4 separate regions of the Homo sapiens genome follow, and all the other regions are linked to region 1. Evidence: fine-mapped expression QTL. A gene starts in region 1. Each other region holds a variant in brackets. All regions are shown on one strand. Distances are between the middles of the regions.

Region 1 (8,217 bases):
ACCCGGGAAGTGGAGGTTGCAGTGAGCCGAGATTGCACCACTGGCCTCCAGCCTGGGTGACAGAGTTAGACAACATCTCAAAAAAAAAAAATTAATAAATAAAACTAAAGGAATATTTGGTGTAATTGACAAAAAACTCATAAAGATTGGTTGTAATTTATGTTTGAAGCTTAAAGACCTAACAAACTAATATCCTTAAGCTCTAAGTAACTATCATTGATCAAGTAAAGCTCTGTTTATATCATATTGCCAAATTTAGCAAATAAAAATTATAAATATAAACATATACACCTTAAGTTTGAGTTTCAGATAAACCACGAATTATTTTTTAGTATGTTTATGTCTTATGCAATATTTTTTGTATTTAATCTTGTAATCCTATCAGGGTTTTTAAATGGTGAAATTTATCATTGCATTAAAAACAAGGAAAAAGGCTAAAGTAGTACTATGTGAAAATGTGCACAAATTCTAGATACGTATAGAATTCAAATACTCCTTTCTAGCACTTAGTACTTTAATGAGGTAAGGATTTAAATGATCACCAATAATTATATTAGGATGGCTTTGATTTATTTTTAAATGTCATTTCAGAACACATTAAAAGGCTATGTGGACTGTAGAGCCCTTATTTTCTGCCCCAGATGACAAACTCATGGTGTAATCTCGAGCAGAATATTTAAAACAAATGTTTGTCTGGATGTAAGGTTATTATAATTGGACCACAGATCTCTCCTGACAAAACCCAGAACCAACGTGTCACCTTGGGTTTCACATCGTCGTCAATTTGAAGTGCCTTGAGGGGGATACCATGGTAGGAACAGAGCTCAGAGTTCAGTCTGAGAACTCAGTGATGCTCCCCAAGGGAATCGAGTCTTACCATCTAGTCAGTCTCTCCTTTTACTAATAAGAAATACTTGGGGTTCTACTCTCTCTTAAGGTTGCATTTTGTAATCTGCAAAATGGGGCTGCCTGTTTCATAAGGCTATTGTAAGAATCAATGAGATAAAAGCATTTAATTTGATCAAATAATTGTTGTAAACTGAGGCTACCCCAAAGAGAGCTATCTGAATCATCTAGTCAGAACCTGAAGGAAATTGAAAGATTATTCTATGTCTCTTGCCTTAGAGATGGCGTTAAAAGGCTTTCTAATTAGCACAAAGAGAAGTCAAAGCAGGGCTGGAGCCACACCCTTTGGTCCCCAATCCAGTGCTTTTCCCAACTTCGCTATGTTCCCCCTTAGGTAGGGGTGAAACGGCCTCTCCTAGACGTTAAAATCTTACACAATATCCTGAGTGTGAGTTAAGGAAAGGAAAGACGGCAGGAGAAAGACACATAAAGTAGAAATTAAAATAGTAACAGGATTGTCATTGCAAAGAGCAAATTGCCACCCAGGCTGTCCAAGATCAGAATAGCAATGGGAATTGTCCTGACTTCCAATTTGGCATCCTCTGCATCAATCACATTTAGTAGTCCTCATGTAGGCTCATGGTGGGAGTGGTCAATATCATCATCACTGCTGCTGTCTTAAAGGATTTAGGAAGAGTTGTACAAAGAGAATCGGCCTTCCTTCTTCCAAAGAATACTCCTATGGCAACATGGAAACATCAGCGTTCCTTTTATAGACAAGAGGGCTTAGAACAGTGTTTCGTGCATAGCAAGAACTGAATATGTATTTTGTACTGATCAGGACTCATTCAGATGCACTCAGCCAAAAGTTCATTTCAAAATTTATTCCTTTTGGGAAATGGTGCATGAACCACTTTAGCATGCTTCACCATGGTGGTTAGGTAGATGGTGGACTGAGTGAGAAAACGACAAAACTCTTACTAAATAGTGACACTGTGTGAAGAACCCTGCTAGGCGCCTTCATACAAATCACCTGGTTTCAACCCTGTGACCATTAAGTGAATAATTGTGTCATCTCTGACACAGGAGGGAACTGAGGCTCACAGAAGTTATGTGGATTGTCAGGGGCTGCAGAGTAAGGATGTGGTAGACCTGAGATTGGAACCCGGGGCTTCTGGGGGCAAGTCCTGCGTAAAGCAATGGTTTTGAGATGCTTCAGATGTAAGCAAACCTTGGTCTTCAAGTTCTATAATTGGACTTTTCTTCCTATTATGTGAAGAATAGAAAACACTTAATCGTGGAAAAGTTCTTATAAACCAAGTAAGATTAAAGGAAAATAGGGTATGTAGAAAATCTGGCTTGCTTTGTTTGAAAGGGAGACTGAAGGAGTCTTTAAGATCCAAGGAGAAAAGAAAGAAAAAATTGCCCAAACAGCCCAGGAAGGAGAAGAAAGGATGAAAGGGACGGCTAAGGAGGATAGAGGAAAGGAAACTGGGGATCGTTGTCACAGCCCAAAGTGAGGCTTCAGGGCAAGATTAGGGAAGGCAGTCTGGATGGTCATAAGTAAAACTACTGGGACATCATGACCCTGCATTAACGTAGAATGAGTCTGGTTATCAATGGGCAGCTTAAGAAAAACAGAATGGCAAATCTACTTGTCATGTGACAAATAAAATGGGATTGTCAATTATTTATTATTATTATTATTATTTTCATCCATGACCTGTGAATCAATTACTTTTATCTGCACTGATGGAGAAATGAAGAGTTCCCCTTCAAAATAACTTCAGAGCAGCTTGCGCTTGGGAAGCACGTGGATTCAACCTGGCTTCTGCCTTTTACTTAAGCGGAATGGGCTTTATCCATCTTCAGGGGCAGAGAGAATTAAGATTAAAGCCAAAACAATTGATATGTTTTAATAGAAACAAATCCAGTCCTCTTCTCTGAGGTATTGACCTCGTTTTAAGGAAGAAAAAAAGACAGCGAGAGAGAGGTTTTGTTGCTAAAGCTGGAATACTCTTTCAAAGAATCTAATGATCGCTTATTAGAATAAAATTAAATATGTGAAATATTTTTTAACTAAAAGCAGGATTTTCAAATATTATATAAGATAACCATAACATATGGCATTGTTTGAAGGCATGCTGTTTAAAGTGAGAGCAATTCTGCAAATTAACCGTAAGCTACTTTGAGAATCCCATCTTATTGTTCAATAAGACTCTGGACCCCACGCTGTGTTACTGCAACAGCTCCATTGTGGCGGTGCCTGGCAACCCGGGTGGAAATTAAAATGACAAAGCGGCTAGTCCAGCATCTTGACCGCGGCAGATCTCTCTAGTCACCCTGCAGCCGCTCCTCACCCACAAATTCACAAGCAGCCAACCCAAACTGTACATTTTCAGAAGAGCTCATTACTCACAGCTGTACAGCACGCTGAAGGCCCTCTCGTCTCTGTCCTCTCCGAAGGCGGGTATGTTAAAGGAAAGTGGCCCCTTACCTCCCCCAAGCAGCTGCAGTGGCCGAGCCCTGGTTTCCCAAGGCTCAGGGGACGGATGGCCAACAACACCATGGAGCCTGCCCGTCCCCAGGCCGCTCCTGCAGCTGCCCTCGCTGGCCACCCAGCTGGAACCTTGGACTTACTGGGGGCTGTGGGCATCAGGGTCTCTCGGCCTTTGTTTTCCTCCAGTGCCATCAGCAGTTCCCAGCGTGACTGTCCCGCAGCCGCACTGGGTCCAGGCGGCTCCTGCCGCAGTCAGTCGCTCCCCCTACCCAGCAGCCTTTTTTTTTCTTCTTAAAGAGACAGGACTGTCATCAACCTTAGGTGTCAATAATGCTGCAAGTGCAGCATTGTCGTTCATTGTGGGGGTGACAACCAACCACACGTTTTTGTTCTCTTCACTTGCAAAGGCTAATTTTTAGCAGTAGGTATGGCTAACAGAAGACTGGCTCTATTAAACACCAGTTGTGTGACCTTAGACAAGTCACTCATGGGTCTCGAGTACCTCATGGGAAATGAAGACCTGTGACCTGGTAATGTTGTAGCTCACAATCTGCTTTTTGTATGTTATTTGGAGTTGTTTATGAGGTTCCAATGGTTAAAAAAAAAAGCATTCACTCAAAATGTGTGGTAAACTGTGAAATGCTATACAATTGATCCTGTTCTAAGTTGAAATTGCTAGTCTCAATTTAATAATACAAAATATTGTAACTCTATTTTCTTGCTTCCTCTGATGGGGTATGTGAAATACCACCAGCATTTATTTCATTTCGGCGCACAGCTATCCTGCCACTGGCCTGGGTACATCATATTCCTCATGATAGTCTCCTAGTAGAACTGCCTGCTTTATCCATATAAATCTAGAATTTTGGCTTATCTGGAAATACTGGATCTCGGAAGCTTCTTATTGCTTCGTTCCTGCGGAAAATTCCTCTTAAGTCAGTTCAAACAACTCCAGACCTGAAAAGGCTCAAATGATCTCTCCTGGGAGAAGACCAAAGCAAGCCCCAAATGTCAGCAGCAACTGGGGAAGGAGAGCCCCTGCTTCTTGTACCTGGCCCTGCACTGGTCTGACCCAGAAGATGCCACATCTAATGGTGTCTCCTTCACATCCTAGACTCACAGATTTGTGTACATATTATTTCCTGGGAGATAGGTGGGAGACCTGTTCTAACAAAAGGACTGAATAATCACAAACAAAGCACATTTCTATTGGGGAGAAATGGTGTCTTGCAGGGCCTTTTCATTGAGCTCTCACTGTAGCACCGTGTGGACCAACAGGCCCTCGGTGGCATGCGCCTGTGGAGTGAGGCTGCCTCTCTGAGGCTACCACCATTCTTACATGGTTCAGTTGTAATCAGTTTAATTCAGCACACAAATATTGAGCCCTTGCTTGTTCCTGGCATCAGCTAGACACCGTAGACTAAACGGTGAATACCCAGTATGTTGCTCCCCCAGCAGGCTCTTCTACTCACAGCTGTAAACCATTACACCCCCAAAGGGAAAAGTTATAAATAACTACATATATATAAACTATATATATAATATATATGTATAGTTTTCAGAGAGGTTAGACGATTTTGCCTACCTACTCACACTACATAAAAGTATCCAGTGAAATATTGATTATTCAGAAATAGTGTTGCTTAGCCAGGTGTGGTGGTACATGCCTGTAGTCCTAGCAACTCAGGAGGCTGAGGAAGGAGGATTGCTTGAGGCCGGGAGTTTGAGACCAGCCTGAGCAACATAGCAAGACCTCAGGTTGGGCGCAATGGCTCACGCCTGTAATCCCAACACTTTGGGAGGCCGAGGTGGGTGGATCACTTGAGGCCAGGAGTTCAAGACCAGCCTGGCCAACATGATGAAACCCCATCTCTACTAAAAATACAAAAATTAGCTGGGTGCAGTGGTGTGCACCTGTAATCTCAGATACTTGGAGGCTAAGGCAGGAGAATTGCTTGCACCTGGGAGGCAGAGGTTGCAGTGAGCTGAGATTGTGCCACTGCACTCCAACCTAAACAACAGAGTGAGACCCTGTCCCAAAAAAACAAAAACAAACATAGCAAGACTTCATCTCTACAAAAATTAAAAAATTAAGCAGGCATTGGTCGTGCATGCCTGCAGTCCTAGCTACTCGGGAGACTGAGGTGGGAGGATCACTTGAGCCCAGGAGTTTAAGGTTACAGTGAGCTATGATTGCACCACTGCACACCAGCCTGGGCGACAGAGTAGACCTCATCTCTAAAATTAAAAAAAAAAAAGACAAAAAATAGTGTTGCAATGTAGAAGTCAAAGCTTAAATACCCTTGTGAGCACTGCCTGTGATACACCTTGTTACTGTTACAACAAATTGCATGTGTTTATATGTGACTTTCTACACATTTGGAAGGTGATTTCATGTGCATTGCAAGCCCTTCACTATGCCACTGTCCAGATACAATGGCACATGAAATAAACCATATGAGTTCATTTACACTTATGGTGCCATTTATGCTATTGGAATGTTGTTGTCAAAAGATTTAGACTTTGTCCTAAAAATTTAAGAAAGCAAAGATTTCTGGATAATTCATGAACCACAGATCTTCCACATTCTGGGCAAAGATTGACCGTTAACATACCCAAGTCAGAGGTCAATCTGTCTGTGATGGTTAATTTTAGGTGTCAACTTGACTGGGCTAAGGAATACCCAGATAGCTGGTAAAGCATCCTCTCTGGGTGTGTCTGTGAGGGTGTCTGCCAAAGAGACTAGCGTTTGAATTACTAGACTGGGTAAAGAAGCTCTGCTGTCACCCATGTAGACGGACATCATCCCACATGAGGGCCCAGATAGAGAACCAAAAGTCAGAGGAAGAACAAATTCTCTCCCTCTCTCTCCTTGAGCTGGTACATCCCATCTTCTCCTACCTTGGACATCAGAGGTCCTGGTTCTCAGATCTTCAGACTCCAGGACTTACACCAGCACCCCACCTCATTCTCAGGCCTTTGGCCTTCTACTAGGATTTACACCATCAGCTCGCCTGGTTCTCAGGCAGTCAGACTCAGACTGAATCACACCAACAGCTTTCCTTGTTCTCCAGCTTGCAGATGGCAGATCAGGAGACTTACTGGCTTCCACAAGCACATGAGCCAATTTCCATAATAAATCCCTTCTTACATATCTATAAATATCTTTAGTTCTGTTTCTCTGGAGAACCCTAAGTCAATGTCTCCACCTTACCCTAAGCTGAGCCTAGAACATGAGAAAATATGACCTGGTGCCACGGCTGTCCAGAACCACAAAAGTGCAGCTAGAGGATGAGTCTCTGCCACTTGTCCAGAGGTTTCAAAGAGCTGCTGCAATATGCTGACTCCTTCCCCTGGATCCTCCCAGCTGCTGCTCCTACCGTGCCAGTCTTTCGTTCCAGCCATATCACGTGGCCAAAGCTCTGCTCACATGTGGCCTGGAGACCACATGGTTTTCTTGGCCTCTTCCTCAATCTGTATGAGGGTCAGATTTTATCAACTCAGAAAGGTTAGCAGCTCAACCTGAATGATACAAGCTAAGTCTCGGCATCTAGTCATAGTTTTGGAGTCTTAGCTTCTGTATCTGTGATGGTTAATATTGAGTGTCAACTTGATTGGATTGAAGGCTGCAAAGTATTGTTCCTGGGTGTGTCTGTGAGGGTGTTGCCAAAGGAGATTAACATTTTAGTCAGTGGCAGAGGCAGATCCACCGTCAATCTGGGTGGGCACAGTCTAATTAGCTGCCAGAGTAGCTAGGATAAAAGCAGGCAGAGGAATGTGGAAAGATTAGACTGGCTTAGTCTTCTAGCCTACATCTTTCTCCAGTGCTGAATGCTTCCTACCCATGAATATTGAACCCCAAGTTCTTCAGCTTTGGGACTCTTGGACCTTTGGCCACAGACCAAAGACCAGGAGTCTACGCACTGTTGGCTTCCCTACTTTTGAGGTTTTGGGACTCGGACTGGCTTCCTTGCTCCTCAGCTTGCAGATGGCCTATTGTGGGACCTCACTTTGTGATCGTGTGAGTCAATACTCCTTAATAAGTTCCCTTTTATATATACATCTATCCTATTAATTCTGTCCCTCTAGAGAACCCTGACCAATATCACCGGTTTTACTAACTCACTGGCACATCATGCCAGCATGCTCAATAGTAATGATTGCTCTTGTCAGGGATTATAGAGATTAAATATCTACAAACCAGGAACTGTCTGGGAAAGTCACATGATTTTTGACCTTCAGTTTTTTCATCTGTGAAATGGGAATAGAAGCATACCTCGTTTTATTGCATATCACTTTATTGCACAATGCAGATTCTATGTTTCTTACAAATTGAAGGTTCATGACAATCCTGCCTTGAGTAAGACTATTGGAGCCATTTTTCCAACAGCACGTGCTTAGTTTGTGTTTCTGTGTCACATTTTGGTAATTCTCACAATATTTCAAGCTCTGATTATTATATCTGTTATGGTAATCTGTGATCAGTGATCTTTGATGTTGCTATCGTAATTGTCTTGGGGCTCCACAAGTGGCATCCATATAAGACGGTGAATTTAATTGACAAATGTTGTGTGTTCTGACTGCTCCACTGACCAGCTGTTCACTGTTTCTCTCTCTCTGTCTCTCCCCTCCTCTCTCTCTGCCTCTCTCTCTCGCTCCCACTCAGGCTTCCCTATTCCCTGAGGCACAACAATATTGAAATTATGCCTGTGAATAACACTACAGTGGCCTCTAAGTGTTCAAGTGAAAGAAATAATCACATATCTCTCGCTTTAAATCAAAAGCTAAAAATGAATGAAAAATGTTCATCATCAGTAATCATCAGAGAAATGCAAATCAAAACCACAATGAGATAGCATCTCGCACAATCA
Region 2 (8,217 bases), 500 kb after region 1:
GAAATCATAACTTAGCTAGAGAACTACCTTTTATGTCTCTTACCCAAACGTGATTGAGTTACATGACAGTTTTACATATGCATTTTCCCTGAGTTATATTTAAAAATCTATACATTTTTCCTGAATACGCAGGAAGTAGCTGGCATAAACTTCAAGTTCAGTAAGAAAACTTAAAGCCCTTTCTTGGGTTGGAGCTAATGGGCTTAATGACCATAGGCAAGCTATAATCTCTCTGAGACTGTGTTACCTTGTACGTAAAATTAAAAAGTTTGACTAAATGACTTTCATAACTGAAAATTTTTTTAGAATAAAACTTTTATTTGTAAAAAGCTACATGAAGGAATTATATATATACACACATTTTATATGTGTATATATTTTATATGTGTGTATATATACATATTTCATATTTTATGTGCATATATACATATTTCATATTTTATGTGCATATATATACGTTTCATATGTATACATATAAAATACATATACATATATGTATATTACATACAAGTCATGTAAAAATGTACATTTTACATAGTGTTCATTAATGATAATATAACATTCTTTCAATAAAGGCTTCTCCCTTTACCTGGTATTGAGTTATCACTTTTTTTTTTTTTTGAGACGGAGTCTCGCTCTGTCGCCCAGGCTGGAGTGCAGTGGCGCCATCTCCGCTCACTGCAAGCTCCGCCTCCCGGGTTCACGCCATTCTCCTGCCTCAGCCTCCCAAGTAGCTCGGACTACAGGCGCCCGCCACCATGCCCTAATTTTTTGTATTTTTGGTAGAGAGGGGATTTCACCGTGTTAGCCAGGATGGTCTCGATCTCCTGATCTCGTGATCTGCCTGCCTTGGCCTCCCAAAGTGCTGGGATTACAGGCATGAGCCACCACGCCTGGTCGAGTTATTACTTTTATAAAACCTTTCTTGTAATGCCATTGTCATGTCATTAATTTTATAAGGGCTGTCTATAATGTTATAATCACAGAAAGATTATGGAAAACTGTCTCTCAAAATATTGGGAAAGCTATTAGTCAAAAATTTGTAAAGGCATTGTATATCATATTGTCATTATCACCAAAAAGTCTTATGTTTAGTAAACAATTTCAGATTCTTTTCTGGGCATTCAGTGAGGGAATACCTTTTGCACCAAAGATTTAAATAAAACACTAGATGGGAGACACTTGCAATATAATTTGAAGTATCCCCACAATTTCATAACTAAGTAGATAACTATAGTTAGCTAGATGTTTCAAAAATTGGTTCTAATTTCTGAAAAGCTTAAAAGAGCTATATACAAATATAGAGCTATATATTGTTTCTTTGTTTCTAATTCTAACAGGTCATGAAATAAACCAAGTTTGTAAACTGGTTCTAATATATATTTTTTTCAAGTGAAATTTCCAAAATCTTTTTTTCCATATGAATAAAAATGTTAGTTGTAATACAGATAGAATAATATGATTACTTAATATTTTACCAGTAGAATTTTCACATATTATGACAGTACCACTTTCTTCAGGTACATATTTAAGATTCTGTCCTGAAAAGTTAATAACATGGAATGTATCTAAAATTTTAATTTTCTAAAGGAGGAGAACGGAAAGTTTATTTTAAGGAGAAATCTACCAAAATGAAAAGAAAACACAGATTGAATTCTTATAAAGGGCAGGCAGAGTTTTGCTAAGAATTAGAAAATAATGCATTTGTTGCAAACTATGAGTCGATTTGCTTAACCTTTGTAACTAGTAAAAGAAAACCTCACTCTTCTGAAAGATGTACATTCAGTAGACCAAGGTTAATTGTAACTTTTATCAGACTAATGTCAACAGCATTACACATATATATTCTCTTTTATCTAAACTTAAAATAAGTAGGAATTTTATTTTATTTATGTAGTTAATTTTTCTATTTAGGCAATCCTCAAGTTAGGTCTCGTCTCTACAAGTAGGAGAGATGACATTTTGTAAGTGATATATCATTTCCATGGTAATTTCTCTTGTGTAACTTAAACATTATAAATATTTGGCTTATTTCAGATTCAGCAAGGATTGATAGAAAATAAAACTAGAGAAATAGAAGAAGGTATATTGCCAAAATTTATTAACTAAATTTAGCTTGATTACTGAAATAAACTGTAAATAGCAAATGGCTTTCCTCTCCATTGTCTGGTTCATAAATGCTACAGTAAGTATTTTTTCTTATGCACATTTAATGAAAGATAGAAACACATACTCATAATGAAGAGTATACTTTTGCCTCATTAATTTATCATGTTCCATAGCTTTAAAAAGGTCTCAAAAAGTCTAAGTATCTCTTTTGTTTTGGCTCTACATAGTCTTCACTTCTGCCATCCCTATGGAACTGTCAGGCAGCACGCTGAAACTGAATTCAGGAAACAAAGTCGTCATCTTCTTAAAGTCATAGTAGTAATTTAAGGCCAAAAGACCAGAGTCATCTGATAATACTTAGCCAAGCAATTACAGTTCAAAAACAGTTATTTGACAGATGACATTCTAAATCTCCAATTATTTACTTTGTCATTGGTTTACTTTTGTGCTCAGGAAATGCTCTAAGTTGCTTGGCATGCAGTGAAAACATCTCCATCAACTTGGTTCTTGTCAAGTTATTCAGCCTTGTCTTTTGCCACATACCCTACTCTACCCTTGTGCTCTAGCATCCAGCCAAACTAGACTACATAGATTTCCACAGTGCTCTTGCTCATCTCTTTGCATTTGCTTCTGCCCTCTGTCATACTTTTTCCTTGTTTTTCAGATATGAACCTATATAGTGCCTCCACCAAAAAGCCTGCAATATTGCAATATTGACACAAAACTGGGATAGGTGTCCCTTCTGTGTGTTCCAATAGTGTCGTGTTGTATACCTGTCATGTTATCTATGATTCTGTAAGGAAATTGCCTGTTTGTTTTTTCAAGTTGTAGCATATGATTTTTGAGGAGTGAACTGATCATCTTCATCTTGTCATTCCAGTGCTTATTGTCACATGGTTGCTGAATACAGGAATGAAGGGTGAGAAAACTAGAAGCTCTGGTACTTAACCACAGTGATAGTCAATTCAAAGCACACCTACGGGCAGATTATATTCAATATTAAATAGTTAATTTTGTATTGTGGTCATACATATTTTTCCTTCCTATTGACACAGATAAATTTCTCAACTTTTTTTTTACTGACTGACACTTAGCTAACTGTGAAATATTTTAGGTAAAGAACATCATTCTTTCATTTTCCTTCCAGGTGCTGCTGAATTTGAATCTGAGTCCTCTATATGGAATCTATCCTCTTCTGCAGGATCTACTCAGGATCTGCTGATGAGTTACATCTAAATCAAGTTTGAAAAGCATCATGAGAATATGCAACAATTTTTTTTTTTTTTGAGATGGAGTTTCACTCGTTTTGACCAGGCTGGAGTGCAATGGCTGGATCTCAGCTCACTGCAACCTCTGCCTCCCGGGCTCAAGTGATTCTCCTGCCTCAACCTCCGAAGTAGCTGGGATTATAGGTGTGCGCCACCATGCCCAGCTCATTTTGTATTTTTAGTAGAGACAGAGTTTCACCATGTTGGTCAG[G/A]CTGGTCTCAAACTCCTGACCTCAGGTGATCCTCCCGCCTCGGTCTCCCAAACTGCTGGGATTACAGGCGTGAGCCACCGCGCCTGGCCGAAAATATGCAACAATTTTAAGAAAAATTACTTAATGCATTCAGACCCGTGGATTGCATTTAGTTCTTCTGTCTCTTAGACTTCGTCTGGAGCAGTTCCTCAGTTTTCCCTTGACCTTATGACCTTGAATCTTTCAAAGAGTAAAGTCCAGTAATGTAGAATGTTCGACAATTGGGTTTATCTGATGTTTCATTGTGATTAGATTTAAATTATACTTTTTAAAAAATTCAACTTTTAGTTCCAGGGAGTACATGTGCAGCTTTGTTACATGAGTATATTGCATCATGCTGAGGTCTGGGGTACAAAGAGATTTTACATTTTTGGTAAAGTGTATCACAGAAGTGATCCTGTAATCGTCTCACTGCATCTTACCATGTGTCCTACAATTTTGATTTGTCCTGTTAATTAATATCTTGTGGGGAGGTAATTTGAAACTACGTAAGTATCTCTTCCTCATAAAACCTTCAATTTATTCATTTACTTGTATCAATAAGGATTCATGGGTTATTTTCTCCAATAGTGTATAATTTGTTAATTTTTAAAAAACTTTTCTTTTAAGAAATGTTATATTTTGACAATTTCAGACTTTTTAATACAATGTCATGACTTCTTTACTTCTTGGGAGCCTTCCAGCATCAATGGTGGCACTCTGTATGGGTCCCGTGGTGTTATTTGACTCCACAGTATTGCATTAAAAACAATGAAAAATATGTAAGAACCATAAATCATCACTTTTTCCCATGAGACACAATTTCTTGGATGGATGAACTGCTCATGTGGAGATGATTAGCATCACAAAGCATTTTAAGGAAATACTTGCAACAGTTCTGCTCACTGCAGTACCACAGGTGGCTATGAAATCATTCCAGTAGTACAGTGTACACTATAGTTAATTTTACGCAGTTATGGTTTAATGCTGCATCTTTGTTTGTTTACCTTTCTCTTGGCTGTGAATGGTGCCACATACCATGTGTAAATTTTAATAAATCGTATTTTTTATAATAGATTATATATATTTTATGGTAGTAATGATGAAATACATGAGTATCTACATATATATTATGCATTCATGACATAACTTTTTCTTAACTTGTTTATCTCTAGGCTATGCAGCTCATCTATAAGCTGTTTCAAATTGTCACAAATCTCCAAAAAAAATTTCAGTCTATTTATTGAAATAAAAAGCTGCTTGTAAGTAGACTCATGCAGTTCAAACCATGTTGTTCAAGGGTCAACTATATTTGTAATTCCCTTTTCTGACACAACCTGGCTCCCTTCATCCTTAGTATATAGTAAGTCCTCACTTAACATGATTTAATAGGTCTTCTTGGAAAATAAGTGGAAGATGTGAAACGAAACCAGTTTTAACTGTAGGCTAACTGATATAAACAAAAGATCTGTTCCTATGACACATTTCTGGCCAAAAAACATCACCAAACATGTCAATACAGACAAAAACACTTGTAATATTAAACATTAAAATGAATGCTAGCTCTGCATACATTTAAGGAAGAGTAATAGATACCATTCATCCAATTTTTGGTGAATCAGTGAGTGATGGCGATTGTAGTGGCAGTGGGTTAAATCAAGAAATGAATGCTGGCAAGGTGCATTTTGTAAGAATCACCTCCTACCTCCATGCAGTCAGAACCAATCACAAATATGGCAGGTTCATGAAGCACTTTTGTACCAAATCGTTGTGTATTGCAACATCTGTGATTATCATGGACTTCACAAATTTTTATTTTATAGTAATTTGCACTCATTTATTTGTTCCTTGTCCAACATGCTTATTCCAGTTCAGGGTAGCAGAGGACTGGAACCTATCTAGTGGCTCAGGGCCCCAGGTGGGAACCAACTCTGGACATGCTATTGTACAGTGCACTCACACACACCCGCAGTCACTCACACTGGGACCATTTAGACATGTCAGTTAACCTGTGCCCAGTTTTGGGATGTGGGAGGAAACCAGAGTATCTGGAGAAAACCCAGGCAGACATGGGGAAAACGTGTAAACTCCATACACACAGTGGCTTTGGCCAGTATATATATTTTTGTCATCAATGTTATAACAAAATGACATTATTCCAGGACTTGCTGTTATTTATTCATTTCATCTCCTGTGTGTAACCAATCTCCTGTGTCCTTGCTCCTACGTAGGTATACTCTTCACTCCCACTTGGGACTCTTGCACCTTTCATTGGTTGCCTCCACCAATTTTCCTTCCAAATGGATGCCATCTTCACCCCATCCTTCCTCAAACACCCTGTCCCAGGCTGCCCTCTTAGGTAGATGACTTATCCTTACCCCCCTAAGATGCTGAAGACCCATTTTTCATCCATCTGTGGGTGGCTCCTGATATTGTTCAGTCTTTGATACCTCAATTTCTTTTGTCTACCTTGCAGAAATGCTCTCAACTGTCTTCCAGCACTGTGCAGGGTGACACTCTGACACTTAGGCCCTTCGCATTTAATTCATGCCACAATCCCTAACTCTGGGTCAACACAATTCCCTGTTTTGTCCCCATACTTGTGAGCTGAAATATTCAGGAAGATAAAGGAGGAAAGAACTTCACATACATTTTATAGTCAAAACGCTGAGTTTACAAAGCAAGGGTTTTGACTGGAATTGCACTGAATGTATAATTTAGAAAGAGAAGGCGTAATATTGTTTCCCCAAACTATTAACATTTTAACAGTCTATCTTATTAACTCTCAAAGTTTAAGAAATTTCTCATAGAGGTTGTGCATATATTTTTTAGATTCCTAAATATCTCATACCTTTTCTATCTACTCAGAAGGCTGAGATGCGAGGATCACTTGACCCAAGGAACTTGTCGCTTCAGTGAGCTATGATTTTACCATTTCCTTCCAGTGTTACAGAGCAAGATGCTGTCAAAAAAAAAAAAAAAAAAAAGAGCCAGGTATGGCGGCTCATGCCTGTAATCCCAGCACTTTGGGAGGTGAAGGAAAATGGACCACCAGACGTCAGTAGCTTGAAACCGGCCCAGTCAACATGGTGAAACCCTGCCTCCACTAAAAACACAAAAAGAAGCAGGGCCACCGTGATGGCAGTGTAATCCCAGCTACTTGGGAGGCTGAGGCAGGAGAACTGCTTGAACCTGAGGGGGTTGGGGTTGGAGGTGGAGGTTGCAATGAGCTGAGGAGCTGAGAGAGCACCACTGCACTCCAGCCTGGGCAACAAAGTAAGACTCCATTTAAAAAAAAAACATATAATCATTTCAGTAGACGATGAAAACAATAAAATTCAACGTACCTTTATGATAAAAACTCAACAAAATGTGCAAGAAGGAACATATCTCAGCATAATAAAGGCCATATATGATAAACCCACAGCTAACATCATGATCAATGCAGAAAAGTTAAAAAAGCTCTTCCTAAGATCTGGAACAAGTGTGGTTACTTTTACCACTTTCATTCATCATAGTGCTGGAAGTCCTAGCTACAGCAATTAGACAGGAAAATACAATAAAAGGCATCCAAATTGGAAAAAAAAAGGAAGTCAAATTGTCTCTGTTTGCAGCTGATATGATCATATGTAAAGAACCCTAAAAATTCCACCAAAAAAACCTACTAGATAAATTTAGTAAAGTTGCAAGATACAATATCAACATACAAAAATGAGTAGCACACCCATGCACCAATAGTGAAACACCTATGAAAGAAATCAAGAAAGCTATTTCATTATAAAAAATGATACGTAAGGACAAACAACCAAAAAGGTGAAAGATCCCACAATGAAAACCATAAAACATAGATGAAAGATAGTAAAGCAGACACAAGTAAATGGAAAGATATCTCATGTTCATGCACTAGAAGAATATTGTTAAAATATCTATATCACCCAGTGTGATCTACAGGATCAATGCAACCCATGTTAAATTACAAAAGACATTCTTCACAGAAATAGAAAAAAAAAAACCTAAAATTCACACGGAAATGCAACGTACCTCAGATAGACAAAAAAATCTTGAATAAAAAGAAAAAAGCTAGAGGCATCACACTACCTGATTTCAAAATATACTATAAATGTATAGTAACCAAAACAGCATGGTGCTGGCAAAAAAAAAAAGAATGAGGGAGCAACAGACAAGACATAGACAAATGACAGACAAATAAAACAGAATAGAGAACTCAAAAGTAAATTTACACATTTACAGTCGACTCATTTTTAACAAAGGCACCAGGAACACACATTTGGGAAGGACAATCTCTTCAATAAACTGTGCTAGGAAAACCCAACACCCACATGTAGAAGAATCAATCTAGACCGTTATCTTACCATATACAAAAATTAACTCAAAATAAAGATAACTTCAATGTAGGTCCTGAAACTATGAGACTACCAGAAAATAAAAAATAAGATAAATGCTTCATGAAATTGATTAGGACAAGGAATTTTTAAATAGACAACAAAAGCACAAGCAACAAAAGCAAAAATAGACAAATGGAATTGCATTAAACTTAAAAGCTTCTGCAAAGCAGAGGAAGCAATCAGTAGAATGAAGAAACAATCTAGA
Region 3 (8,217 bases), 81 kb before region 1:
GTTCATCAACCTACAAGTGCTTGTATAATTAGAACAGAAGAGGGCAATTAGAACAGAAGAGGGCGCTTGCATGCACCAAGGCCAGTGAGACAGCACTCCAAAATCATGGAAGTTTACAATCATGGAAAGTCCCCTAGTTCATGCTAGCAGGGCTAGATTTATCCTGATAGATTCAATGTCCACTGGAAAACCTGCAGCAGGAGGGTGACATGATCAGATGAAGCCCAAGCGCTGTAGACAGGGACATCAACTGCAAGAGTCCAGTAACAACATTACGAGAAATTAGAGGACCTGTAATAGGCAGTGGAGTAAGACCAAGGGACTGGCACAGAAAATTTAGTCAACAGATCCTGGAGACTGTGGGGAACAAAGAAGAAAATTTAAGGATTCATTCTTGAGCAATCTTGTGGACAGTAGTGTTATTTTCAGTGGGATCACTCAAAATGAGAAACAGATTTGGGGAGAGGATGAAGACTAAAGTTTTGCAATATTGATTTTGAAATACTTATGGGATTCCAAGTGCAAAATGCTAACAATAGCTACCATTTGTCAGTATTATATTAAGTGCCGGATATTATGTTAAACTATATGTATTACGTATTCATCATTCGATCTTCAGCATAATGCCTGCTGTGAGTAAAATATTACAATGAAGCTTTCAATAACCTGATCTGCTGCAATAACACAAACTTGGATACAACTCAACTGGCAAGGTGTGGTTGCTCCCATCCTCTGCTCAATCCTTATTTCATTATCCTTGCAGTGAAGCAATCCTGAATTTTCTGTAATCAAATCCTGGGGACCTTGAGATATACCCTTAGAAGGATAGTACTGTATTACCATGTTACTGATGAGGAAACAGGGGCTCAGAGAGGGTAGAAAATTTGTTCAAAGTCACACAATAGAGGAGTGAAGTTTAAGCCCAGATCTGGGTAACTACAAAATCCAGGTTTTTAATCTCTGCTACACTACCTCTCTGAAGACTAGGGTGGTGACTGAAGATATGGTGGTCACTAACACTTTCATGGGAGTGGATGAATGTATTCAAGGAAAGGAACAAAGTAAAAGAGCTGAGGAAGGAGCCCCCACACTAACACGTATTTAGGGAGTGAAGTGAGGAACAGAGGTTCACAAATAATTCTGAGAAGCAGGCAAAATCAGTGAATGCCAAGAAGGAATGGTATCATCATGGCTGAGGGCTTCAAAGAGGAATACCAAGCTTCTGGGAGATCAGGTAAAAGAAACAGAAAAATCCACTGAGCTGAGTAACAGAAAAATCATTAACTAGTGACGTCAGCCAGACTATTTTAGTGGAATGACAGTGGAAGCAAAAGTCTGTTTGGAGTGATAATAAATAAGGAGGAAGTACAGACAATAAGACAACTCTTTCCGGAAGCTGGACTATGATAGAATACAAGAAAGAAAATCAAGGTGGAGGTCTGTTTTGTTTTTCCTGAAATGAAATATAGTGAAACATATTTAACTGCTAATAAAAGGGGCAGTAGAAGTAAACACTAAAAATACAAGCAGTAGCTCAATATTTAGCTAAGGATTTTAAATGTAATACAAGGAAAAGGTACAATTATTAAATAATGTGACAAATTTTGTTTGAGCTACAGAATTAGAGGAAAAGTTTCCATATCAGAAAAAACATATGATGTTTCCATTTTATGCAGTAGTACTTCCAAGACTGGCCAATCAGTGTTTACTGATCACTCATAAACAGAATTCCATAGTGCTCTGTGTCAGCAAAGCAATGGAGTAATCATTATGTAGAGCAAAAAATATCAAATGTAGTTACATGTCTGTGATGCTCCCTACCATATATGAAGGGGGCTCCATAAACATAATACTCCGCCTTTCTTCTCCTGTACTCACTAATTCCCCCAATAGGCCCCATACCACCAGAAAGCAAGATGACTTACATGATTGGTAAGTTGAGAAAAAGCATCTGCACATGCTCAGCAGGACTCAAAGGGACAGATGTTTAGTAGGGGCAGGACCTCTGGAAGGAAGTCTGTGGCTTTCCAGGGCTACCTGTGACTAGACTGGTGAGCTAATCCATTTCACTCTGGGAGTCAATAGAAATCCAATGCCTGCCACAGCTATAATCTCCAATATCACAATAATCAGTGACAGAGGTGGCTTCTGACATCCATCTGCTCAATCCCTCTGCTATGTCTTCACTATGTCTTCACTGACTCACAACTCAGGAAAGGAAAGCAAGGTGTCACTTACTGGTTCCCCGTAAGGCCCTATATCATCATGCTCTCAAAACATTAAAACCATTAATGGCAATAAAGTTATATCAAAAACTAATTTTTGTCTGGAACACACAGATAAAAATAAGTGGGAAGATACCCATATGACTGGTTTAAAAAAGTTTAAAGGCTAGTGATATGGTTTGGCTGTGTCCCCACCCAAATCTCATCTTGACTTGTAACTCCCATAATTCCCATGTGTTGTGGGAAGGACCCGGTGGGAGATAATTGAATCATAGGGGTGGTGTTCTCGTGGTAGCGAATACTGTTCTCATGGTACTGACTAAGTCTCAAGAGCTGATAGTTTTATAAGGGAAAACCCCCTTCTCTTGGCTTTCCTTCTCTTTTTGCCTGCCGCCAAGTAAGATGTGGCTTTAGCCTTCTGCCATGATTCTAAGGTCTCCCCAGCCATGTGGAACTGTGAGTCCATTAAACTTCTTTTTATTTACAAATTACCCAGTCTCAAGTATGTTTTTATCAGCAGCATGAAAACAGACTAATACAGCTAGTTATGAGGGTTATTAAATAATCATGAAAATAGTAGCCTAACTCTTAAATCTAGATAAAGAAAAGTGACCATCAAGACAATTTCTGGGAGTGCTAACCCACACATGATGTGTGATTAACAGAAACACTAGATGAACATCTAGTGTCACAATGCCAAGAAAACTAACCAAGACCAGAGACAAAACACAGTGTTTCATTATGACACCAAAATAACAACTTGAATCCATAGTAGAGAAAATGAAGACATATAAAAGTGGGAAAATGCAACTTTGAAAGATGTCAAGTTTTCTATATTAATTTATACATTTAACTCATCCCTAAAAATATAACAGGTTTGCCCCATCCACCCAGGGCTAGAGAAGCAAGTTGTAGCCACACTCTGTGCCACAAGATATTTGGAAAATGCTGAGCAAAAACAGAATGCTCTGCTGACCTTCTACCCTTCTCACCTGATTTGGCCCTGAATAACTTTTGGCCGATTTCCAAATCCACATCCACCTTAGAAAGGATCTGCCACCAACAAAAATATTTTCTTTAAAAGAAAGTAATAAACCACACAGTAAAATACCGTAACAATCAGAAAGAACTGTTAACAGCTCCATGCAACAATCTGGATGAATCTCACCAGCATCACAGCAAATAAAAGCCAGACGCAGAATATATGCCACATGGCTCCTTCTATACAAAGCATGATTAACTAGCAAAGTGAATCTATGCTGTTAAAGCCAGTGTCATGGCTACCCTGGAATGGTCAGACTGAAAAAGGCAAGAGAGGGGCTTTTGGGGCTGGTAATCTTCTGTGTAATCTTCTGGTAATCTTCTGC[G/A]TTCTGATCTAGGTTTACATGGGTATGTTCAGATGGTAAAATTTCACTAAGCCTACATTTATGATATGTGCACTGTTCTATATGCATCTTATATTTCAACACAAAATTTTAACAAAAATATAATACAACATTAAAAAAAAAGGAGTTCCAAATCGTTAGAGCAAAGATTGGCAGGCTTATAGGAATCCAGGCTTAGACTTTCAAAAAGGTTGTTTTGAAGATGACAATTACAATTAAATGAGTAACTCAGACGTTTGAAAAGTCAGTCTCACAGCTACCAACTCATAGATGCAAATCCCTGATGGGAAACAACATTTGCCTACTCATTTTCTTTTACTCTCACTTTAACTCCAACCTAACTTGCCTCTCCCATTCCAACTCATTTCACTTATATTTTAATGAATAAAGGTGTACAATGATTAGCAACTTTCCCTAAGCCATTATCCTGGACAAGAAAAAAGTACATTCCATAAAAGACACATCACAGAGTATGCTTGACAATGTGAACAGCAGGACAAACCCAGAACTTTTCAGGACAACATCTCACTTAGAAAAAGCTCAGGTAACAGTTTCACAAGGAAAAGGATGCTTGCAGAAGTTGAAAGGTAGTATTAAAATTAGAACCATGTTGACTGTTTTCCCAAAATTACTGTCTTTTCCTAAAAGGACACCTATCAGACACCCATCACTTTAAGACCCCCGCAAGACCCTTTTCCTGCCCCTGTTACAGAGTTAATTGGATTTGTCCACACTTCCCAGAAGCTGATCAAGCCTAATGCAAACCCAGCATCATAACTACATAAAACCATGGAGGGGCAGTGGTGTCAGAAATAGAGCAAGGACAGGGCAAGTGGAAGACCTGACCTCTCGGCACTTGGCTGGTGGTCTTGATCTTAACCTTTCTCTCTCCTCTTCTGTGAAATTTAATAATCACTGTCATTACCAAACAAGCTACAAGTTATGCTGGGAGGCTCAAATGAAAAAAGAAATGGGAAAGCACTGGAAAACTGTAAAGCACCATGCAGGTATAAGATGTTGACTACACCATCACACCATGACAGGAGAGATTTTTACACTTATCACCTCTGGATTCTTTTAGACAGCATCTCTTAGATGCCATTCTGGCAACTGAAATATCTTAAAACACAAAAAGTTTATTAGCTTGAGCCATAAGAAATTGTTGATTTATAGGTCTAAAATGAATAACAGAAAACTTTTAAAAAACTTGTATTTTTATATAGAAGTTTATTTAAAAGAATACTAAACTATAATACCTCGGGTTTGGGCAGCTTCCTTTAAAGCAGCCACAAGGTGAGGTTTCAAGTTATCCAAAATAAATCTTCCTTCAAGACTTGGGAAAAGGGACCTGAAAAGGGAAAGGAACAGCAATCATCATAATCTTCCCACAATTCCAAGATTTTAAAAAAACAATCACATATTTTCAAGTCAGTTAAGCCGACTATTTTATTTTACATAAATTATAATGCACACATCAAATCAAATTACAATATTTTTGATCAAATATTATCTAGACTTTGCTTTAAAACGTGAAGGCATCATGTACTTTACTCAAATTCAGAAATATTCTCAACATCTTACAGTAAAATTAATTTTATTTCCTGAAATGTCAGTACACTCTCGTTTATAAAGAATTACTTAATATACTATTTTTCATGAATTTAAATATTATCAAAATAATTCATTAGTGACTAATCTGGCCTTGTTATTATTTGCACTTTATAAACATTGTTTTCAGTGTTCTGCTATTGAAATTTCCAAGAAAAACAGCTGCTTAGATAACTTTTCAACTGATAAACATTTGAATACTTTTTCATTTTAGAATATAAAATGTATCCTTTGGTATTTTAACAATGTATTTCTGCAAAAGTCTTCCTAACTATAAAATCGACATAGAAAACCATTGAATTTCACAACAAAGGACTCTCACAGTGAGCAGGAGCAGGGGAACCCTAAGAGTGAACAGGAATGTTAGAAGGGGGACCCCTACCTTGGATATTCTGCTGAGGTAATATAAATGACATCTTGGTCTGATACAGATGAGGAGAAGGGGACAAAATTGCCATTTTGTAAAGGGAGCAGCTCCAGCCCAAGCAGCTCACTGTAGGCTTGGTCAGAAAGCACAAATTCTAGAAGGTGAAGCTTTTCTTCAGCACAGCCCAGGTGTGCACACTTCCGCAGCACCTGCCGCACCCACGCGGGCGTCACCTTCCTCACAGGTGTTGTGCCAGAGGCAGCTGTGAGCTGAACAGCAGCATCCACATTCCCTGGTACCTTGGCAATCTGCTTCCCTGAGCTCTGGAGGTAGTTGAGCACAGTTTTTGTGTATTCTAAATTTTCATCAAGTTCTGAGAAGTACACCTGCTCCAACCTGACCCAGTCACAGCTAATTGAATAAATCACTGCATTCTGCAACAGCTCGCTGAATAGAGGCTCTAACACCGGTTGCCAGTGCACCTTGACTTTGCTCGCCTCCGGCCAAAGCTTATAGATAACATCAACTGACAAGGGGAAATCAGAGCTCTTTTCCATCTCCAGACGTTTTATTGAATCTAAGATCAGAGTAGCATAAGCTTTGGGGACAACATTCATGACAAGAAACTCATTCCATAAGGCTGCCGGGTCTCTCCACTGGTCCAGCTCTCTCCATTTTATGCTCCTGCGGTTATCAGTAAGGCCAAAGAACCCACTGATGTGAACTGGGAGGCCTGTGCTGCTTTCCTCACCAGGTGGTAAAGGAAGGAAACAAAATGCTTTTCCTGAGAAATCAGACGTTGCTCCTTTTGCTTCATCATCTCTGCTTGATAAAGGCATGGCTATTCCAATGATTGGGACAAATTTCAGTTCATCAGCTAAAGAGTCAAGCTTACTACTGATCCCTCGCCCACCCACACTGTTACACACCAACCAAGATGTTTTCTGTGCATCCTTAGTACTCTCCTCTTCTAAAACAATATTTACGTGATATGTTACACAGGTGATGTTATTGCTTGGAGTCTTTTTACAATAGTTACTTATAGCAGTTCCCAGAATCTTTATAGAATTCGGCCGCTCATGTTTCAGTGCCTTACTCTCACTCGAAGTCACTCTAAACACCAGTTTCTCTGTTCCGTCAGCCTCTCGGACATATAAGGAAACATCCTGCACACTTTTCAGAAAGAGCAGCACTGTGTCTGCATCTGCCCTAAAAGACTCAAACAACTCAAGAACCTTCTGCTTATTGTAGAGGTTACTACTAAGTTGTGAAGGTTGTAGGCGAAGAGGGAAACGGAAAAATGTTCCTGGAAAATTGCCGTTTATAAATGTTTCCTTGGTGCTTCCAAAAATGCCAACAAATGGTGCAAACTGGTCTGAAAGTTCACTAATTTCTTTGCTGTCATCTTTGAGATTCCAACATTGGCCTGATTCATGTGGGCCAAAAAGTGTTTGATGAGGATCTAGCATCCCGATTTGGTCACCACTAAAGATACAAGGAACATCTGTAAAGAAAAATTTAAGTCATGATCAACTCTGAAATTTTAGGGACAATTATGATTACAATTATAATAAATATATGAAAAAGCATGAGCCATTAAATGACTAAAACAGATTTATCTAAACACAAACTTAATTTACCTTCAGAAATGTAATTCTCTGAACATGAAAAATGATTTCTCTTTTGATTCAATCCAATAACAAATGCCAGGCATAGAGACTTTGCATGATTACTGTGAAAACCTAGGAGACATCTTCAAAAACTCACTACACAAAAGATGGGCAGAGTATTTGGATATATACACTTAACCCCCACCACCATGTGAGCCCAATTCGACAGAACAGGACTGCATCCTATGCTCAACTTTACAAATTCAGCATAGACTCTGTAAGAAGAGACAGAGAGCAGTACAATGCAGGTGACTCTGCCCACTGTGTTGCTCAGTGAGTGCCTGCCCTGAAGCTCATGAGGTACATTCCCTCAAGGGGTCTTAACCTCTCTGCCTCTGGAGCGGAAGCACTTCTCTTGCTGGGAGCATCTCACCACGTGGAGCCTAATTACAGTATTGAAAGATACCCATCTTTTGTATAACATGGCCTCTAAATTGATACCAGCTGCTTCACCTGTTCCTCAACCAAGGACAGAGTAGTATTCAAAAACTGGCAGAAAAACCAGATGTGTGAGACCCACTGTGATGAGAGAAATTCCTCCCCAGTGTGCTTTGGTGAAGATCTCCCAAGGGTGATGTGATGTATGCTTGCCTCACATGCTTACTTAGCACCTGGGTTTCCTGCAAGATGCAACTCCAGTGAAGTCAATCTTTAATACCTACGGTCGTCAAGCACAGCTTCAGCTGTCACAATCACCAACTCCCAAGCTTGTGGGTATTTTAAGTTAGCAAATGTTATGTCCACCAACCACATGGCTAAATCCATGGACAGTGGGGTCTAGGGAATGCTCAACCCTGCTCCCAAGGCACAGAGTCGCACCCCCATGAATGAAATCAGGCCAGGTGGCTCCTGACAAGATAAAAGCATGACCTATGACCTATGACCTTCTCAAATCCTTGGTTTAGAGAAGAGTCCTCCAGTTAATGTTCCACACAAATGTGCTTATTCTCAATGAGCAATCA
Region 4 (6,636 bases), 110 kb before region 1:
GCAGAGAAATGCAGAAATAAAAATCAAGAATGAGGCGTTAGATAATAACCTAAAGATTCTACTTGAAAAACATATTAACAGCTATTTGACTTCTTTGACCGTGACTGCACCAGACCATGCACGGCACAGAGCTGCCTGCAATGCTGTGGGGTCGTGTGATCAAGCCTCACCTGGCAGGTGCACACCGGCGAATGCGTGCAGCAGACAGCAGGTTGTTAATAGATTGGAAGGCAAGGATAAGAGCCACATAACATAAAGGAAGGAGCTCTCCTTGGCAAGGACAGAATTATGCCTACCCACATTCAGTTTAATTCCTTGTAACAAGTGAGTGCCCTGGAGTGGGCAACGTTTGGCTGCTGGATGTGACGATTTTTATTTCCTTATCAAAAAGATTTCCAAGCCTCAATCTACGGCTCTTTGTTTGCACTTCAGTTTAACTAAATTATCATATGACCAGAATATCCAGTAGTTTTCATTTCATTTTAATTGGCTTAGTCTGCGTGTCTACTGCTTTTCAGCATCTAATAGGAGGCTGTGCAGTTTCAAATAATATATAAAAATTAGGGAAATGGTTGCCAGCTAATAGGATGAATTTAATTGCCTCTCATAGGAAAACAAAATCAGGAATAAAATCAGGATAAACTTCATCATTCATGGGTAAAAATTATTAAGATGAATCTATTCTAATGGATTGTACTTTATCCTAATGGGGAGGAGAGGATTTACATAAAGTCAAAGTGAGTCACAAGATAAATGTGAATCGGGAGAATTCTAATATGTTTGACAAATAATTCTGAAAGGCGTTTTGAGAAGCATAGCATCACAAAACTGAAAAGCAACCCAGTTTATTGAAACAAAAACAAACTGTAAAGGTGAAACATGTTTTCACAATGGGGCCACATTTCTCAGCTGCACTCAAACAATGACAAACCGGAAAAGCGCCTCCCTCCAATGTGGAAGGAATTGTGAAGTCCCAGCCTGCATGTAAAATAGAACTGGGCTTTAAAAGAATCGGATAATTACGAAATGAGTTACATAAAGTCAGGTGCCTATTTTGTTTTCTATGAGGAGAAGAAACTAATTGGAAATCTTGTGAGAATGGGGATTTGCTGCTGACCAGGGTGGCCCTTCCTTAACTCTTCGTCTCTCATCTTCTCCCAACCAGCTTGTGCTTGATGCTGAAACTGTGTGCTTACCCAAGCTGGTGCAGGGGACGTGGGGTCCCTCTGGCAGCTCACAGAGCCTCTACGAAATCTGTGTGTGTCCAGATGGGAAGCTGTACCTGTCTGTGGCCGGTGTGAGCACCACGTGCCAGGAGCACAACCACATCTGCCTCTGAGCTGCCTGCGTCCTCTCGGTGAGCTGTGCAGTGCCGGCCCCAGATCCTCACACCCAGGGAGCAGCTGCACATCGTGAAAGACTGAGGCAGCGTGGATGGGAAGTAAACGCTTCCAGAGGAACTCAGAAAAAATTATGTGCCAGTGAAAGTGTTTGGACAAAAACTACATGATCTCAAAATGCACGTGGATGTGAGACACAAAAGTTGACAAAATGGAAAAGCAATGTGTTTTTCCACTGGATTAATTTTCACCGGAACAATTGCGAATTCTCTCTGCCTCGCCTCCCCCTATCT[T/C]GTCCGTGTGGGCACACACTGAGTGTTGAGTTGCCGTGTGGAGTTAATGTATGACGCTCCACTGTGGATATCTAATGCCCTGTTGAGAGTAGCCTTGCTCAGTACTAAAATGCCCCAAAGTTCTATACAGCATTTCCTTTATAGCATTCAAACCTCACATCCTCCCTTCAGTTTAATGCAAGTAAGTCAGGTTTCACAAGAAAATTTTCAAGTTTTGAAGGGAATTTGAGGTTGATCTGGTTTTCAAGATGTAGTTAAAGGAATAAATCACTCAAAATTAAACTTTCTGTATATAGTCAATAAGCAATAAAAACCTCATTTTTCAGAGTTCACAGTTTAAGAGTGTCTTTTTTAATCCTCACAAATCTTTGAGGTAGCTATTATTTTTCCCCAAGTTACTGGTGACAAAGGCTCAGGTAGAACAAGTCACAAGGTCACATGGTAACTACTGAAATTAAACCAAAATGTAACCCTAAATTTACATAGCTCTTTTCACTTTGAAAAAGTTTCATGTGCTGTCTCCAAAACACCCGTCTATGTGATAATTGTACAGCACTTATTTGACAAACAAAGAAACTGAAGCCCAAAGAGGTTTTGTCTCTACCAAGATCAAAGGGCTAGTCTGTGGTACTTGCCTCCACATGATAGACACAAGTCTGGACGTAACTTCATAGAAACAAGACACTCAGAGCTTGTGAACATGTTTAGTGCCAATTGGCTGTGTAAGGTGCTATAGAAATCAAATAGGACACACTGAACCTCTGAAGACAGGTTCGTTTTGTGTAGGCCACCCACTCACTTTGTAAAATGCCCTCTATCACAAAAAGTGGTGCATTTGTTTTTGTTTTACTTATTATAAGAAGAATCTTCAAATAGGTGTAGGGAGACCAACAGCACTGCAACTTTCTAATGATATGACATATTAATAACTATCAATATAAGTTCAAATTCATTTTCCATAGTCTCAGAATCAAGAGAAAGTACAAAAGTGAACTCTATTCCTAATGCTTAGTAAGATGTTCATTTAACAGCATAGCCTGCTCATAACAACTCCCTGATGTTTAAATGGCCAGAATGCATAAACACTTGAAATTGCAAAATAAAAATACAGTGCTTTCCAAGCAGTTAAGAGCAAACTCAACTCAGTGTAATTCACATTTCACAGGCAGTTGGGTGCTTTTACTTATAAATTGATATTTACCTTTTTCCATTTGGTTGAGTCCTGAGTAAACTGCTTTCTTACTGTGACATTCCTATTGTCATAGTAAATGGTTCCTGGTATTTTGTTCCCTGTTTGTGCGAAATATGTCTTCAAGCCCAGCTGATAAAACACGGGATCACTAGATCACTAAACATTTATAAACTAGCTTGGTTCTCATATTATGTGTCCAAAAATTTGTGTGTAGATGATAAAGTGAGGTAAATAAAAATAGTCAAGTAGAAAGTGTGGAGAACAGAACCTTTTGAATAAAAGGTTTAAATTCTATTTTTTTATCCTTAGCTATATGGAATAATGTTGAAAGAAGTTGTTACAGATAAATGCATTCTCCACAATAAGGAATTTATCCTTCATTAGAATCAAAGCTTTTAGATGAGCTGTATTCTAAAATGCATTACATATATCTGTCTTATTAAACATATAAATTTTCATTGAAGGCATACAGTCATGGTTATAAACGTACATCACGGGGTATATAGACTGATACTCCTATAGACTATTGAGTGTTGCTACATTAGGGATCTAAAAATAGCACTCATTTATTTCCCAGTTTATGAACTGACAAGTAGATACAGTCAAAAAGATGAAGATCAAAATCTACTACTATTATGCTTTAATAATAAAGATAGTGGTCCAGGTGCGGTGGCTCACGCCTGTAATCCCAGCACTTTGGCAGGCCGAGGCAGGCAGATCACGAGCTCAGCAGATCGAGACCATCCTGGCTAACACGGTGAAACCCCATCTCTATTAAAAATACAAAAAATTAGCTGGGCGTGGTGGCGGGTGCCTGTAGTCCCAGCTACTCAGGAGGCTGAGGCAGGAGATTTGCTTGAACCCAGGAGGTGGAGGTTGCAATGAGCTGAGATTGTGCCACTGCACTCCAGCCTGGGCAACAGAGTGAGACTCCATCTCAAAAAAATAAATAAATAAAATAAAAAATAATGATAAAGATAGCTGGTTTGCAGCAAAATGGACTTCCTAATAACTTCACAGCTGAATAAAACACAAACCACTCTGGTCACAGGCAGAACTAAAGGCTCCCAACTTCTATAACTGCTACATGAGGAGGATGGACAGATGCCTTCTCTGAAAGCAGTCAAATTCACATTAGAAGAGTCAAGCCATGTGTGTTGGGTTCCCCCCGCCAACCCCCACTAGGTCATCCAAAAACTTCAGTCTGTGCTCCTATGGGAAACAGGGAATGAGGGTAGAAGCTCTTCTGAACGAGCAGAATTTTGTGCACGATGGTTTTCAGATTGTGTCTGCTGATGCAGCTTTGTGTCCCCTTCGATTTGAAACATCGCCTCTTACTTGGCTTTAGCAGTCTTCTTCACATAGTAAATTCCACTTCAAATATGCTTCTATATGCTATTTTCTACCAGCACTATATAAATGTCATCCTTGAGATCTACAAAACATTTAAACTACCAAAAATGTCAACTGGCACCAATGAAAGAAATAAATCCTACTCATCCCAAAATCAGACCTGTGAACAACTCAGACCTGTGAACAACTCCTCTTCATTCTGTTAAATACTATTTTAAGATTTTTCCCAAATCATTTTTGGGCTCTCGGCACTCCCTGCTCCGTTAACGAATTGTATGGTGCAAGTTTTTCACTTGTTTCCTCCCGGAGACTATGAACAATCGAGCCATCCCTCTGGGGATGCCCTGTCCCTGTCCCTGGAGCCTCTGCAGCAAAGACCCTGTTCACGAGTGCAGAAGCTGCTCCATCCCTTTCCTAGACTGCATGCTACTCAGGAGCAGCTGATCCACACAGCAGTAGACAGCTTCCTTTCTCTTTTTAAAAGAAGCAAACTATGGAAGAGGGTGGAGGAAGCGTAAAATAACAAAATAGTTCAGGTCCAAAATTCCTTATCCTCAATTTCAGTATCTAAAAAGCTTGAAAAAGTGAAAATTTTCAAATAAGTCTGCTGTAAACTATTGGTGGCAAAAGCTGATTCAAATTACATAAGGCTATTGATCAGGTCTGTGTATTCAATTTACTGTGAACCCTCATAGCCTTAACTGCAGAAATACTAATGCGTTTGATTACAGGTACAGCCTGTCCCTGGTGGGAGCACTTCATTAAAAAGTTATATATAATTGTATTAACTTTCTAAAATCAAATTATGAGGGGTTTTTTTTTGCCTGGAAAAACACAAAACTCCAACTAGATCAACTATCAAGGCCAAATGAGGTTTTCTGTGTAAATTTTAATATTCAAAAGCAATAAAATCTAAATGCTGAATTGAAGCTTCGAAGTAGCAAGTACTTTAAATAAAGCTGAAGGCACAGAATTCAGGTAGCTCCAGAACAGAGAGCACTCTTAGCCCTCATCTGCCTAACTCTGAAGACTTGTGCCTCAACTATAAAGATGAAGAACTCCTATCTGTCAGTAATAAAGTGTGAATTAGTCCCAGACATGCAGCTGTCCCTGAGGCAATGGAAATATCAATTCAGCTCTACCTAGAGGAAAAAAATATTTAATGTATCTGTTTCCAAACACATATATACCACATATATCAGCTAATCTGATTCCCTAAAAAGGTGACATAAACTCAACTAAATCAATGAGCACCTAAACCTAGTATATAACAAGCACTTCATATTCTATTAATCCTAAAAATCTATAATTCCAGCATGAAAATATACAGGAAAATATTTTCCTAATATTTCCAATAAATACACACATACACACACATTAAAACTTAATATTAAGATGTTAAGTTTGATTTCCAATGAACTATTTCTCAGGAAACACCCATTACGATGATTTCATATGTACATTTTCCTTTATTAAAAGTATGGCACTTTATATAACAGCAGAAATAATTACATGATTTCACATCCAGAAGCAATAAAATGTGGAGGTGCAAACATTCCTTATTCCCAATAAAAGTAAAAAAAGTTTCAACATGTTCTGTAAGCCCTTAATTGCATAAAGTATATTTAGCATCATTTACAGCCAGTACACTTATATAAACTAATTATCATTACCTTTTACATTCTGCAAAAGAAATATGTTAAAGTAAAGAAGCATGGCGAGACAAACATGAATTAAATGTCAGTTCTGATCATTCATGGGGAAATATAAGCCGATAATTATAAACTACTAGATAACACAATGATTTTAACAATTTTTGATGTTTTTAAAGTTAAAAAAACTCCACTACATGCCATATTGAAAGAAAAGGTTGTTTTTTTTTTAACTGCAGCACCTTTAGACAACAAAAGATTGCATCCTGTTCAACCACACTATATAAATTATAACATTTGTGGAAAATATGTACACACAAACATAAAGCAAGTGTTCTAACAGTTAATAAATGTTGTCTTGGCAAGCAGTTTCCAGAAACAATACTAACAACTGGTAATAAGAACTGCCACCATTTTGAGTTTTCCGTTGCTATCTTCATCAAACAGGAAGCCTGTAAACATAAGATGTTAAAAAAAAATTTAAATAAAGATGTAAAGTGCACTCAGTGCACTCTAAAAAGTACTACCTTCACACTCTTAGTCAAGTAATAGGATTAAAATACTCTACCATTTCTTAAATGCACTGAGTACAACATAAAATTACAACAAATTCATGATCAGAGCCAGCTGATGAGAAAATAACGCATCCAAGAGGATCCACTTAAAAAAATGACAGACTACAAAGACTTAATTCCCCTTATGTTTAAACCAATTATATGTCCAGTGTTTCATTAGCTCCTTCAAAAATACCATGTTAAAAACATAAAATTAACTTCATCCTAACCAGAGACATACATAGACTCTTA

Which allele goes with the higher level. Positions count from the first base shown, and alleles are read on the strand shown. Sizes are in standard deviations (SD) of each study's normalised expression. Not every link is listed here.
In carriers of allele T in region 4, the expression in skeletal muscle of the gene that starts at base 3,574 in region 1 tends to be lower than with C alone (small effect, 0.30 SD a copy in GTEx).

Evidence for each region. PIP is the estimated chance that this variant, and not a neighbour inherited with it, causes the effect. A credible set is the group of variants that fine-mapping cannot tell apart.
Region 2: its variant is the best candidate, but not a certain one, in a credible set for the expression of SACS in cerebellum (GTEx, PIP 0.88).
Region 3: its variant is the best candidate, but not a certain one, in a credible set for the expression of SACS in whole blood (TOPMed, PIP 0.88).
Region 4: its variant is the best candidate, but not a certain one, in a credible set for the expression of SACS in skeletal muscle (GTEx, PIP 0.62).

The regions. Positions count from the first base shown.
Region 1 is chr13:23,430,129-23,438,345 of GRCh38, forward strand. SACS (sacsin molecular chaperone) reads right to left here and starts at 3,574. Exons shown (of 10, transcript NM_014363.6): 1 at 3,487-3,574. RefSeq lists an enhancer at 2,826-3,393.
Region 2 is chr13:23,930,257-23,938,473 of GRCh38, forward strand. It overlaps the pseudogene ANKRD20A19P. Among named protein-coding and RNA genes, the nearest start is that of C1QTNF9B, 37 kb to the left of the region's middle. The variant G/A (reference allele first, on the strand shown) is at 3,589.
Region 3 is chr13:23,348,919-23,357,135 of GRCh38, forward strand. SACS (sacsin molecular chaperone) reads right to left here. Exons shown (of 10, transcript NM_014363.6): 8 at 5,601-7,089; 9 at 4,867-4,958. Among named protein-coding and RNA genes, the nearest start is that of SACS-AS1, 66 kb to the right of the region's middle. The variant G/A (reference allele first, on the strand shown) is at 3,593.
Region 4 is chr13:23,323,203-23,329,838 of GRCh38, forward strand. It overlaps SGCG (sarcoglycan gamma), which reads left to right. Exons shown (of 8, transcript NM_000231.3): 8 at 1,166-1,960. The coding sequence ends at 1,339. LOC107984585 (a long non-coding RNA gene) reads right to left here and starts at 1,171. Exons shown (of 2, transcript XR_001749787.2): 1 at 1-1,171. It overlaps SACS (sacsin molecular chaperone), which reads right to left. Exons shown (of 10, transcript NM_014363.6): 10 at 5,628-6,636. The variant T/C (reference allele first, on the strand shown) is at 1,634.